3 linked regions of the Homo sapiens genome follow. The protein of the gene in region 1 purifies or fractionates together with the protein of each later gene. This does not show direct contact. Each region holds a gene or a part of one and is shown in the gene's direction. Other genes may lie near its edges. The genes, in order: RPS6KA3, SNTB2 and GRSF1.

Region 1 (3,652 bases):
TAATTGTATTTTACCAGAGTAACATAGTTTTTTTTAGAGTCATTTACTTGAGTGAATACATCAAAATATTTCTCTCCAGGTTAAAAGATTTCAGGATTGGTCTGTGTAGGAGTTTACATTTATGGTCTCATCCCTAGTACACTGTGAATTCTTGAAAGCAGACATTTTTCCCCCCCTCTCTGAATCCTCAGCATTCAGCACAATGCCTGGCCCTGACATATTGTGGACTTAATAAATATCTGCTGAATGAATCATGAAAGTCAGGAATAGGATGATTATGAATCTTATCTGTTTTTTATCATTTTAATCTCATTAAAATATGAACAATTTAAAAAGACCTCAGTGCCTCAGTAAAAACACAGGCAGTTTCTTCAGTTCCTTTACACTGGCCTTCCTGCTTTAAGACCTCACACGAATCTCATGGTGTTCAAAACAAAAAAACCCTTGTGGTTAAACTCAAACGTGGGTCAGAACATGATAGGCTAGAACTAGGCCAAATGTTTAAAGAAGCAAATTTAGGATAATAAAGGAAGTACTATGTAAGCAAAGTAAGGGTTGGTACAAGATAAAAAACAAACTAGCTTCCTAACTGGTCTAGGTGAACTCTTTAGTGAGTTACTTAAAGATGCTAATATGCTTTTGAATATTTGACTGTTTAGAGGATGGATAGGTAGGAATTATGGCTCTTCTGTTGTACAAATTCTTTGCCAGTGCTGTCAGAGACAGCATTTAGTGGATCATAAGCCTGACCTAGAGTGATACTTTTTTCTCCACTGCAATAGAGTAGGTATAAATGATAGTAAATCTAAATATGAAGTTTTCAAAATGATAAAATTATGGAGGTTATTTTTGTTTTATAGAAATGTGTTATATAAAATAGCCACAATATAATGTGTTGTATACAATGTGTATTAAACAATGTGTTGTATGAAAATAGCTACCTCGACTTCCTTTAAATAACAGGTACCCATGATGCACTGAAAAATATTTAAAAAATCAACTATATAAGTATTTTATTATAGAAAATGAGGCCTTTGTGTGGGAGATCATGTTTAGTGAATGTGCAGCCATTTTTAACCTCAAAGATTATGTAGTATTCTATAGTATAGTACATAGATTTTATAGTATTTCTACTATATCAATATTATATAGGTTTCTTATTTTATCTATAGGGAAAATGCTCTATTAAAGTATAATCATTGATTTTGAAAAAAAATGTTTTATTGTTTCTTTTCCTTTTCCTGTTTTATTTTTACCACCTTTCAGGTTTTTTTCTTTCCCCTAAGTGAAGATCTGAGGAGAGGACAGGTATTGTTACATGTCAACTGTCAAGTAACTGTGACCCATTACTGAACACTTCATTGTTTTCAGTGATTATGATAGAGGATGTCAGTTTTGTAAAATCTAGAAAACTTTGCTTTATTTTGGCAGCTTGATCCTGTAGTAATGGGGTAGATTCAAAATGTGAAACTTGCTGGATGCATTTAAATTTTATTAATAAAACTTTTATCTAATTGCAGGAGCAAATATAGGCAGACTTTGTCTTCTCTTTAGTATACATTTCTGGAAACCACAATAAGTATATCTTATTTTTAATAAGACAGGTGGCATAATTGGACTGTGTACTCCTGACCAAGGACTTGACATTTGCTAAATTATAGAATGACCAAAAATACAGATCACTTATCTAGAAGTCTGAGTTGCAGAACAATTGTCCTAAAGTTTTTAAAAATTTTTATTACTAAGAAATTCATACCATTGTGATAATTAACAAGATTTGCTCTACAGTTCAATGCTCAGGGACATGTGATCTGCCAGGCTGTGAATGATGGGTAAGGTCACACTTGCCTGGTTGACCCAGTGCAGAATGGGTGCTTTAGACCCAACGGTTCAGATTATAATGAATGACACACTGACATGGTGGTGGTCTCACTGGTAATGCCTGCGTGTGATAGTGCTCAGTTGTTTATGTGCTTTGGTGGATAACACATTTTAAAGCATTGAAATGCAGCTGTGCAAGTACATATATTATACATCCCGTTCCCCAATTCACATAAATAGAAAAAAACAAGTATCTAAATTGTAATACCTAGCATTCAATGTCTTCCTTCCACCCCACTCCCATCAGTGTGTTCTTTTGGAATTAATACAGTGACCTGTATCATTAACCTGGAGATATCAGATCTCAGATATTCTAGTTTATCAGTTAAACACCAAAAAGCATTAAAACAAAGAAAAACTACCCTATTTAATCGTTCAGTAAAAACTACCATATTTAATCATTAAGTTTTGTCATGATTTAGCAAAACAAACGCAAATGTGTGTGTGTCTGTGTGTGTATGTGTTTTATAAAACAGGTTCAGGATAAAATGTATCCATATAGCACATTATGATTATTTTAATACATTTGGCCTATTTATTTTTTGACAGTTTATCAAGTTGTACAATTTAAAAGCCAATATTTATTAATCCCTAATGTACAGAAACATAGGAGGAAGTTGTCTCTTTGGTTAAACAAACTGTTGAAAGATAAACTTTGGCACACCAAAATGTTTACTTTTCAATTGATAAATAATATTTGTACATTTTTATGGGGTCATGTGATATTTTGTTCCATGCATAGAATGTGTAATGATCACATCAGGGTATTTGGGATATCCATTAATCATTTCTGTGTGTTGGGAACATTTCAAATCCTCTCTTTTAACTATTCTGAAATATATAAAACATTGTTATTAACTATAGTCACCCTACTCTACTCTGCTATCCATTGTTAGAACTTATTCCTTCTATCCAATTGTATGTACTGTGCCCATTAACCAACCTTTCTTCACCCCCACCCCCTCTGTAACCCCCACACTCGTCCTATCCTCTAGTAACTCTCATTCTGAGTAGAAACTCCCTACCTATGAGTCCCACGTGTGAGTAAGAACATGCAGTATTTGTCTTTTTGTCATGTGACCTATTTTAAGCAAATACATTAGTTACTAGTAATTAAGTAATTTGGTTTTTGCTCATTCTTAAAACTTAGAAGGGACTTTGTGGGGTTATTTGGATTAATAGCAAAGTGTTAAAGAACATAAGCTCTGGAGCCATAAAGACCTGTGTTTGAGTCCTGGCTCTGCCACTTAATAACTTTGTAACCCTATGCAAGTTATATTTAATATCTCTATACTTCAACATCCTAATTTGTAAAATAGGGATGAAAATAATGTCTACCTCATAGAGTTTTGGTGAGAATTAAATGAAATGATAATATATGTAAAGTACTTGGTTCAGTACATGGTTTAAGTTTTTAATAAACAATAGTTACAATGAATCATCCCTCTTAAAGAACTGTCTCAGTTCTTTGTTTTTCCTCTGGGGTAATTTTTTAGAATCCAGCAAAGCAATTAAAAGTGATTTATTTGATTGATCAGTTTAAATAGTCATGGTAATATCTGAACGTAATTGAAAGGGCAAGGGGAACAGAAATCTCTTTAATCTTACCCTTTTTGCATTGATCCCTTCCTCAGTATTGTCTTTAAAGGGAAAAAACAACATTGTGAAGAATATATGTGGAAGAAGGAAGAAAGGAAAGTTTGTTCACATTTTTAACATTGCTCAAATTGGAAGATGTCTCACAGTCCATGGGATGTCATAGTTTAATTAG
Region 2 (3,752 bases), on another chromosome or scaffold:
TTTTTTTTTTTGGAGATGGAGTTTTGCTCTTGTTGCCCAGGCTGGAGTGCAGTGGTGCAATCTTGGCTCACTGCAACCTCTGCCTCCCGGATTCAAGCGATTCTCCTGCCTCAGCCTCCTGAGTAGCTGGGATTGCAGGCGCCTGCCACCACACCTGGCTAATTTTTTGTATTTTTAGTAGAGACGGGGTTTCACCATGTTGGCCAGACTGGTCTATAACTCTTGACCCCAGGTGATCCACCGCCTTGGCCTCCCAAAGTGCTGGGATTACAGGTGTAAGCCACTGCACCCGGCCCAGACTTTCTTTTTCTTTCTTTCTTTCTTTCTTTTTTTTTTTTTTTTTTTGAGGCAGAGTTTTGCTCTTGTTGCCCAGGCTGGAGTGCAATGGTGCCATCTCAGCTCACCGCAATCTCTGCCTCCCAGGTTCAAGCAATTCTCCTGCCTCAGCCTCCCAAGTAGCTGGGATTACAGGCATGTGCCACCACGCCCGGCTAATTTTTTGTATTTTTAGTAGAGATGGGGTTTCTCCATGTTGGTCAGGCTTGTCTCAAACTCGTGACCTCAGGTGATCCGCCCACCTCAGCCTCTCAAAGTGCTGGGATTAAAGGCTTGAGCCACCGCGCCCGGCCCAGACTTTCAATCTCAGGTTTATACCACTGATTCTGGGTCTCAGGCCTTTGGGCTTGGATTGGAAGTGCACCACCAACTTTCCTGGGCCTGCAGTTTGCAGATGGCAGATCGTGGGACTTCTCAGCATCCATAATCTCGTGGCCAGTCCCTTGTAATAATAATAAATTTATATATCTCTATATATCCTATTGGTTGGTTTCTCTGAAGAACCCTAAGACACCATCATTCTGCAAATATCCTTGAGGCCTGCCAATTGTGGCTTCAGGGTTTAAGAAGACATGGTTCCCTCTTGAATTACAGGCAAGTAAACGAGATTACAAAACATTGACAAAGGCTTGGATCATGCTGTTGGACCTTTGCTTGAGCTGTTCACCGTCCGTTGTTACCTCTGTGAAGCTGACCCCAGGCCTAACCAAATGTTCCTTTTATGCTGTTCTGGGGACGTCTTCTGCATGTCACTTAACCACATAGTATCACACCTAGTTGGTTGGTTCTGCATTTTCCTTCCCCACTAGACCGCAAACTCTCAGCTGTTGTTGGTACTATTGAGCTTAAGTACAGGGCCTCAAAAGGAGCCGGAGTACAGGGCTAAGCGCTCAGTACACAGGGTACGAACCAATCAATGCAAGAATGAACGTGCCACCGGGTCTTGCAGGCTTGAGAAGTGTTTCTCCAAGCTGATTTTGCTTTCCGTGCCCGGGCAGCTCCCGTGAATTGCACGGTAGAGGTCAGGAGTTTCTGGGGGGTCCGTGGGGAGCCAATGGAAGGATGAGGAGAAATGCAGTCCCACCGCATTCGGGTTGCCCACGTCCGGCGAGAGGCGAGTGATCGGACAACTTCTGCACCTCCCGGAAGCGGCTGCGCCGGCCCCGCCCCTCCAGAGGCAGGCGTGGCCTCATGAATAATGAATCGTGCGGGGGAGGGGCCGGGCCCGCCCCTCCGGGCGGGAAGAGGGAAGCGCCGAGGCTGCCTGACTGGAATGAGGGTAGCTGCGGCGACTGCGGCGGCTGGAGCGGGGCCGGCCATGGCGGTGTGGACGCGGGCCACCAAAGCGGGGCTGGTGGAGCTGCTCCTGAGGGAGCGCTGGGTCCGAGTGGTGGCCGAGCTGAGCGGGGAGAGCCTGAGCCTGACGGGCGACGCCGCCGCGGCCGAGCTGGAGCCCGCTCTGGGACCCGCGGCCGCCGCCTTCAACGGCCTCCCAAACGGCGGCGGCGCGGGCGACTCGCTGCCCGGGAGCCCAAGCCGCGGCCTGGGGCCCCCGAGCCCGCCGGCGCCGCCTCGGGGCCCCGCGGGTGAGGCGGGCGCGTCGCCGCCCGTGCGCCGGGTGCGGGTGGTGAAGCAAGAGGCGGGCGGCCTGGGCATCAGCATCAAGGGCGGCCGCGAGAACCGGATGCCGATCCTCATCTCCAAGATCTTCCCCGGGCTGGCTGCCGACCAGAGCCGGGCGCTGCGGCTGGGCGACGCCATCCTGTCGGTGAACGGCACCGACCTGCGCCAGGCCACCCACGACCAGGCCGTGCAGGCGCTGAAGCGCGCGGGCAAGGAGGTGCTGCTGGAGGGTGAGCGGGGCCGGGCGGGAGGGTGGGCAGGCCGCGGCGGCCTGGGCTCGCGGGAGCTCACTTTGTTCCTGCCCCGCCGGCGGGGCGAGCCGGTTCTCTCCCCGTCTCTCTCCAAACCCGGGTTTCTGGAGCTTTCAGTGTGGAAAAACGGATGCTTCTTGCAGGAAAAGTTGGGCAGCCGCCGAAGTGTGGCTTGCAGCCCCTAGGGAAGACTCGGCTGAGATTGAGTAAAAAGCAGCTGCCTATGAAGCCCCACCTCGGCCCGATAAGCTGACACTAAGAACTTGAGGGAGAGCGAACGGCTCGAGTGGGTCTGTCTCCGTTTGCCCGCTGAGAAGTGCCGGGTTGGCGCTTAACTCACTCACCTCTGGCTCCTCGGGGCGGGCGGGTCTATTAAAAAAAAAAAAAAGTCCATCTTCACCGATGCCAGCGGTATGCTCGGGCAAACCACCAAAGCGCTGGTTAATTTATGGGAATTTAACCCATCATTGGCTCTCAACAATAACCAAAGGAGATCATAGCATTTCATTGAAGCCAGAAAGCTGAAACAGCAAGTCTGTGTGGTTAACGAACCTTGTTTAACAGTGGAGGCTCACGTGTTTGAACATTTACTGCCAACTAGAGTTTTGCCCCTTTTGCAAGTCTGCTGCCAGCTTCCTACCACTCACAGGCGCGCTGCTTCAAGACTCTTGGGGTTTTTGTAAGAAACTTGAAATGGCAAATCACAAGATAGGTTTCAATAACCAGGATTATTCTTTACGTTAAGTTATATGTATGTGATCTGTAAGTTGGATCTTTCATGATGAATTTGAACTAAGGCAAAAATAAAATTCCTCTCCTCTAAGGACTCATGCATGTTGGAGGTGATAGAGTATTGTAAATTATAAACGAAAAGTCAGCTGCTTTCTTCAGAAATTTTTGAGCGGTCAGCTTTCTTTCACTGGTGATTATGGCTAGCTGTGTTGAAAAGAATATAAAAGAAGATGCTGTCCCTACTTGGTCTCTAGTTGGAGAAATGATAGAAAAATGCAAAACAACTTATAGGGAGGAAAGGAATGAAGTTGGTGATTACGTCGTGAAACTATACTTAAATGCCAAAGGAATGCAAAGTTAGAAAATAGTTAGTGGAGATGGAATTAGCCAGGGAGGACTTTTTCCCGAAGCTGAATCTTGAGCCAGGTCTCCAAGAAGTGATGGACATAGGCAGGCAGGGATGAGTCAGGAGGGTATTCCTGGCAGAGGAAGGACAGAAGGGAAGGGCTGGGGGCTGCTGGTGAAGAAGGACCAATCGTCAAACCGAGAGGCCAGAAGTCCAACTTGGCACAATGGATTTTCACTTTCTTATAAATCAGCTTGTGAATATTTGGAAAAATACTGATTTACCAGAAATGATTTCATGTACACCAGTTGTGAAGTTCCAGTGTCCCACCTTTATAATATCCTATTTATAAACCTTATTTATATTGCATGTCTAGGTGGGGCTAGACATTGCTCGGAAATTAGTGTTAATAGAAGGAGTAAAATTATAGATTGTGGTTTGGGTGTGTGTCCAAAAAAAACTGT
Region 3 (3,652 bases), on another chromosome or scaffold:
GACTTCAGTGATGGGGATTTGTGTAAGGAATATGACACTTGTTTCCTGCTTTGTTGTTGGAAAACTGCATTCTTGTGACTTACATAATTGAGCTAAAAGTTTGATTTCTGTTTTCAATTGATTTTGCTCATACACTTTTAGACTGCAGAATCCGCAACGGTGAGAATGGAATACATTTTCTCCTAAACAGAGATGGGAAACGAAGGGGTGATGCCTTAATTGAAATGGAGTCAGAGCAGGATGTGCAGAAAGCCTTAGAGAAGCACCGCATGTACATGGGCCAGCGGTATGTGGAAGGTATGTGAAGTCAGATTATGGCTTTTTGGGATCATTGCATTAGGTTTTATACTTTTCAAGGTAGTTTTTATTTGATCCTTAATAATGAAGTATTTAGATTGTATGAATGCATTCTTTTATAGGATGTGAAAATAAAACATAAAGAGATAAAGTTTCTTTTTTTTGTGGGGGGGATGGAATCTCACTCTGTCACCCAGGCTGGAGTGCAGTGGTGCGATTTCAGCTCACTGCAACCTCTGCCTCCTGGGTTCAAGCAATTCTCCTGTCTCAGCCTCCCAAGTAGCTGGGACTACAGGCACATGCCATGATACCCAGCTAATTTTTGTATTTTTATTAGAGATGGGGTTTTACCATATTGGTCAGGCTGGTCTCAAACTCCTGACCTCAGGTAATCCACCCGCCTTGGCCTCCCAAAGTTCTGGGATTATAGGCGTGAGCCAGTGTGCCTGGCCAATGAAGTATCTTACAAGCTGTGAGAAATAAAGAAGTTATGCCCGCATGGTAAATATGCAATAAATGTCATTTGTTATTTTCTCTAGAGAAGCGCATAAAGATTAAAATAGTTATTGAATTCTCAGATAACCCAGCAAGTTGTAATGATTTTTTTTAATGGGTTTGTTCCTTTGTTATGTAAATTTTTCATCCCTGTTGGGTTTTTTCTTCGTAGTATATGAGATAAACAATGAAGATGTGGATGCCTTAATGAAGAGCTTGCAGGTCAAATCTTCGCCTGTGGTAAATGATGGTGTGGTTCGTTTGAGAGGACTTCCTTATAGTTGCAATGAGAAAGACATTGTAGACTTCTTTGCAGGTACTTTGCAGTTGTATTATGCTTGGGAGCTCATATCTTTTTTCCCTTGGTATCTCCTTCTATATCTTAGATGAGCCTGTTTCTGGGCAAAGGCATGCAGTTATATTAGGTTCTTTAGGGGAGAGCTCTTCACTTAAATTTCTAATATTTATAGATTTTATATGTGTTTTTGTTCTATCAGGCAGATTTTAGGAGGGAAGTCAGATTTCAGAATAATTTCATGAGGGTTTTACTATTGAAGGAAATAACTTCTCATAATAGTTGCTGTATTTGTGTAAGACAATAACAATTTATATAATTTAAAAGTATTTTCTAATTCCTAGAACCATTAGCAGTGAAGTCTGTGATTTCTATTGTTTCCTAGTATATAATTAACAGCAAAAAAAAAAAAAAAAACTGGTGGGGAGAATTGTATGTTTTGGGTGGGCTTCTTGGACCTTACCTATTCTGGAAATACAAGTATGTAGGTGTTGACTGACTTTTGACTGCATAATAATTTTCTTCCTGTCAAGCATGTATTCAGTTTTGGGACTGGCAAAACAGAATAAAAATTTTATTAGTATGTGAATGATGGTGTTAATTCTAAGGATAAAAAAGCCTGCTAGTAGCATTAAAATCTCTTGGTGTCCTAGGACTGAATATAGTTGACATTACTTTTGTGATGGACTATAGAGGGAGGCGAAAAACAGGGGAAGCCTATGTGCAATTTGAAGAACCAGAAATGGCCAACCAAGCCCTGTTGAAACACAGGGAAGAAATTGGTAATCGGTGAGTAAAGCAGATACTAATGATGCAGAAGTGTTACACATTAAGTCATTTTGATGAATGTGCTGTAATATGACTGAAAAGTTATCCAAACATAGAAAAGTAGAGAGAGTAGTGTAGTGAGCCATCAAATGCCCATAATTTAGATTAACAATTTTTTTTCGACTGCTCCTTTTTTTTTTTTTTGAGACAGAGTTTCACTCTTTTTGCCTAGGCTAGAGTGCAATGGCACGATCTTGGCTCACTGCAACCTCTGCCTCCCTGGTTTAAGCGATTCTCCTGCCTCAGCCTCCCAAGTAGCTGGGATTACAGGCGCCTGCCACCATGCCCGGCTTTTTTTGTATTTTTAGTAGAGACGGGGTTTCACCATGTTGGCCAGGGTGGTCTCGATCTCTCGACCTTGTGATCCGCCCGCCTCGGCCTCCCAAAGTGCTGGGATTACAGGCGTGAGCCACCGCATCCGGCTTGACTGCTCCTTGTGGGGCAGGGACTAACCCATAGACAGAGTACCTAGAGCAGCTAGATTAACACATTTATATATAAAATGTAACATCTGTTATATTTGCTTCATCTGGGTTTTTTTTAGTATGCATCTTTTAAAAAAATTTTTTTACATAATTTCAATGTTATATCTAACACTGTTAGCAATAGTATATTATCTAATAACAGTTCATAATAGCATTTTCCCAATTATACCAAAAATAGCCTTTTTTTTTTTGGCAACGGAGTTTCACTCTGCCGCCTAGGCTGGAGTGCGGTGGTGTGATCTTGGCTCACTGCATCCTCTCTCTGCCTCCCAGTTTCATGTGATCCTCCTGCCTCAGCCTCCTGAGTAGCTGGAACTAGAGGCATGCGCCACCATGCCCAGCTAAGTTTTGTATTTTTAGTAGAGACAAGGTTTTACCATGTTGGCCAGGCTGGTCTAGAACTCCCGGACTCAAGTCATTCACCCACCTCGGCCTCCAAAAGTGCTGGGATTACAGGTGTGAGCCAGCACACCGGACAAAAATACAGAATCCAGATAAGGTCTACACACTGCATTTGATTGTTATGTCCATAATTCTCTGTGTGTGTGTGTGTTTTTTTTTTTTTTTTAAGACACAGGGTCTTATTCTGTCACCCAGGCTGGAGTGCAGTGGCATGATGATAGCTCACTACAGCCTTGAATTCCTGGGCTCAAGCAATCGTCTCGCCTCATCCTCCCAACTAGCTAGAACAATAGGCATGTGCCGCCACACCTGGCTGTGTGTATGTGTGTGTGCGTGCGTGCGTGTGTGTTTGTAGGTGGGGTCTTGCTGTGTTGCCCTGGCTGGCCTCAAACTCATGGGCTCAAGTGATCGCCCGCTTTGGCTTCCCAAAACGCTAGGATTACAGGTGTGAGCCACTGCACCTGACCACTGATTCTCTTGAACTAGAGCAAATCCCCCTTACTTATTCTTCCCCCCTTTTTAAAAGCAATTGACTTTTGAAGAAATTAGATCAGTTGTCTTGTACAGTATCTCATGTTGACATCACCTCAGGATGCACATGATGATAAGTGGGTTCATTTGTGTTTTAACTTTAACTTTGGAGGTACAGTTTAAAATGTCAAATGTTAAATCACTGTTTCGTTAATTTTTTTTTTTACTGTTTTCTGGCCTTTTAAATCAGCTCCTTTGAAGTAAACAAAACAGCCATTCCAAAGCCAGTGTTTCAGGATCTACTGATAGAAGTGGTTCAAAGGTTTTTTGGTTTTTTGAGACAGGATCTTGCTCTGTCACCCAGGCTGAAGTGCAGTGC

Evidence for each region.
Region 2: the proteins of RPS6KA3 (region 1) and SNTB2 purify together in Homo sapiens (affinity purification with mass spectrometry, with the first as the bait; one large-scale study listed by BioGRID). This does not show direct contact.
Region 3: the proteins of RPS6KA3 (region 1) and GRSF1 purify together in Homo sapiens (affinity purification with mass spectrometry; 2 studies listed by BioGRID and IntAct, with this or other methods). This does not show direct contact.

Annotation. Positions count from the first base shown.
Region 1 is NC_000023.11:20,260,348-20,263,999, reverse strand, and holds part of RPS6KA3 (ribosomal protein S6 kinase alpha-3), read left to right. Parts: intron 1-3,652. UniProt on the Homo sapiens protein: Serine/threonine-protein kinase that acts downstream of ERK (MAPK1/ERK2 and MAPK3/ERK1) signaling and mediates mitogenic and stress-induced activation of the transcription factors CREB1, ETV1/ER81 and NR4A1/NUR77, regulates translation through RPS6 and EIF4B phosphorylation, and mediates cellular proliferation, survival, and differentiation by modulating mTOR signaling and repressing pro-apoptotic function of BAD and DAPK1.
Region 2 is NC_000016.10:69,185,558-69,189,309, forward strand, and holds the start of SNTB2 (beta-2-syntrophin), read left to right. Parts: upstream 1-1,606; 5' UTR 1,607-1,609; coding exon 1,610-2,189; intron 2,190-3,752. UniProt on the Homo sapiens protein: Adapter protein that binds to and probably organizes the subcellular localization of a variety of membrane proteins. May link various receptors to the actin cytoskeleton and the dystrophin glycoprotein complex.
Region 3 is NC_000004.12:70,829,763-70,833,414, reverse strand, and holds part of GRSF1 (G-rich sequence factor 1), read left to right. Parts: intron 1-141; coding exon 142-297; intron 298-964; coding exon 965-1,108; intron 1,109-1,740; coding exon 1,741-1,876; intron 1,877-3,652. UniProt on the Homo sapiens protein: Regulator of post-transcriptional mitochondrial gene expression, required for assembly of the mitochondrial ribosome and for recruitment of mRNA and lncRNA. Binds RNAs containing the 14 base G-rich element.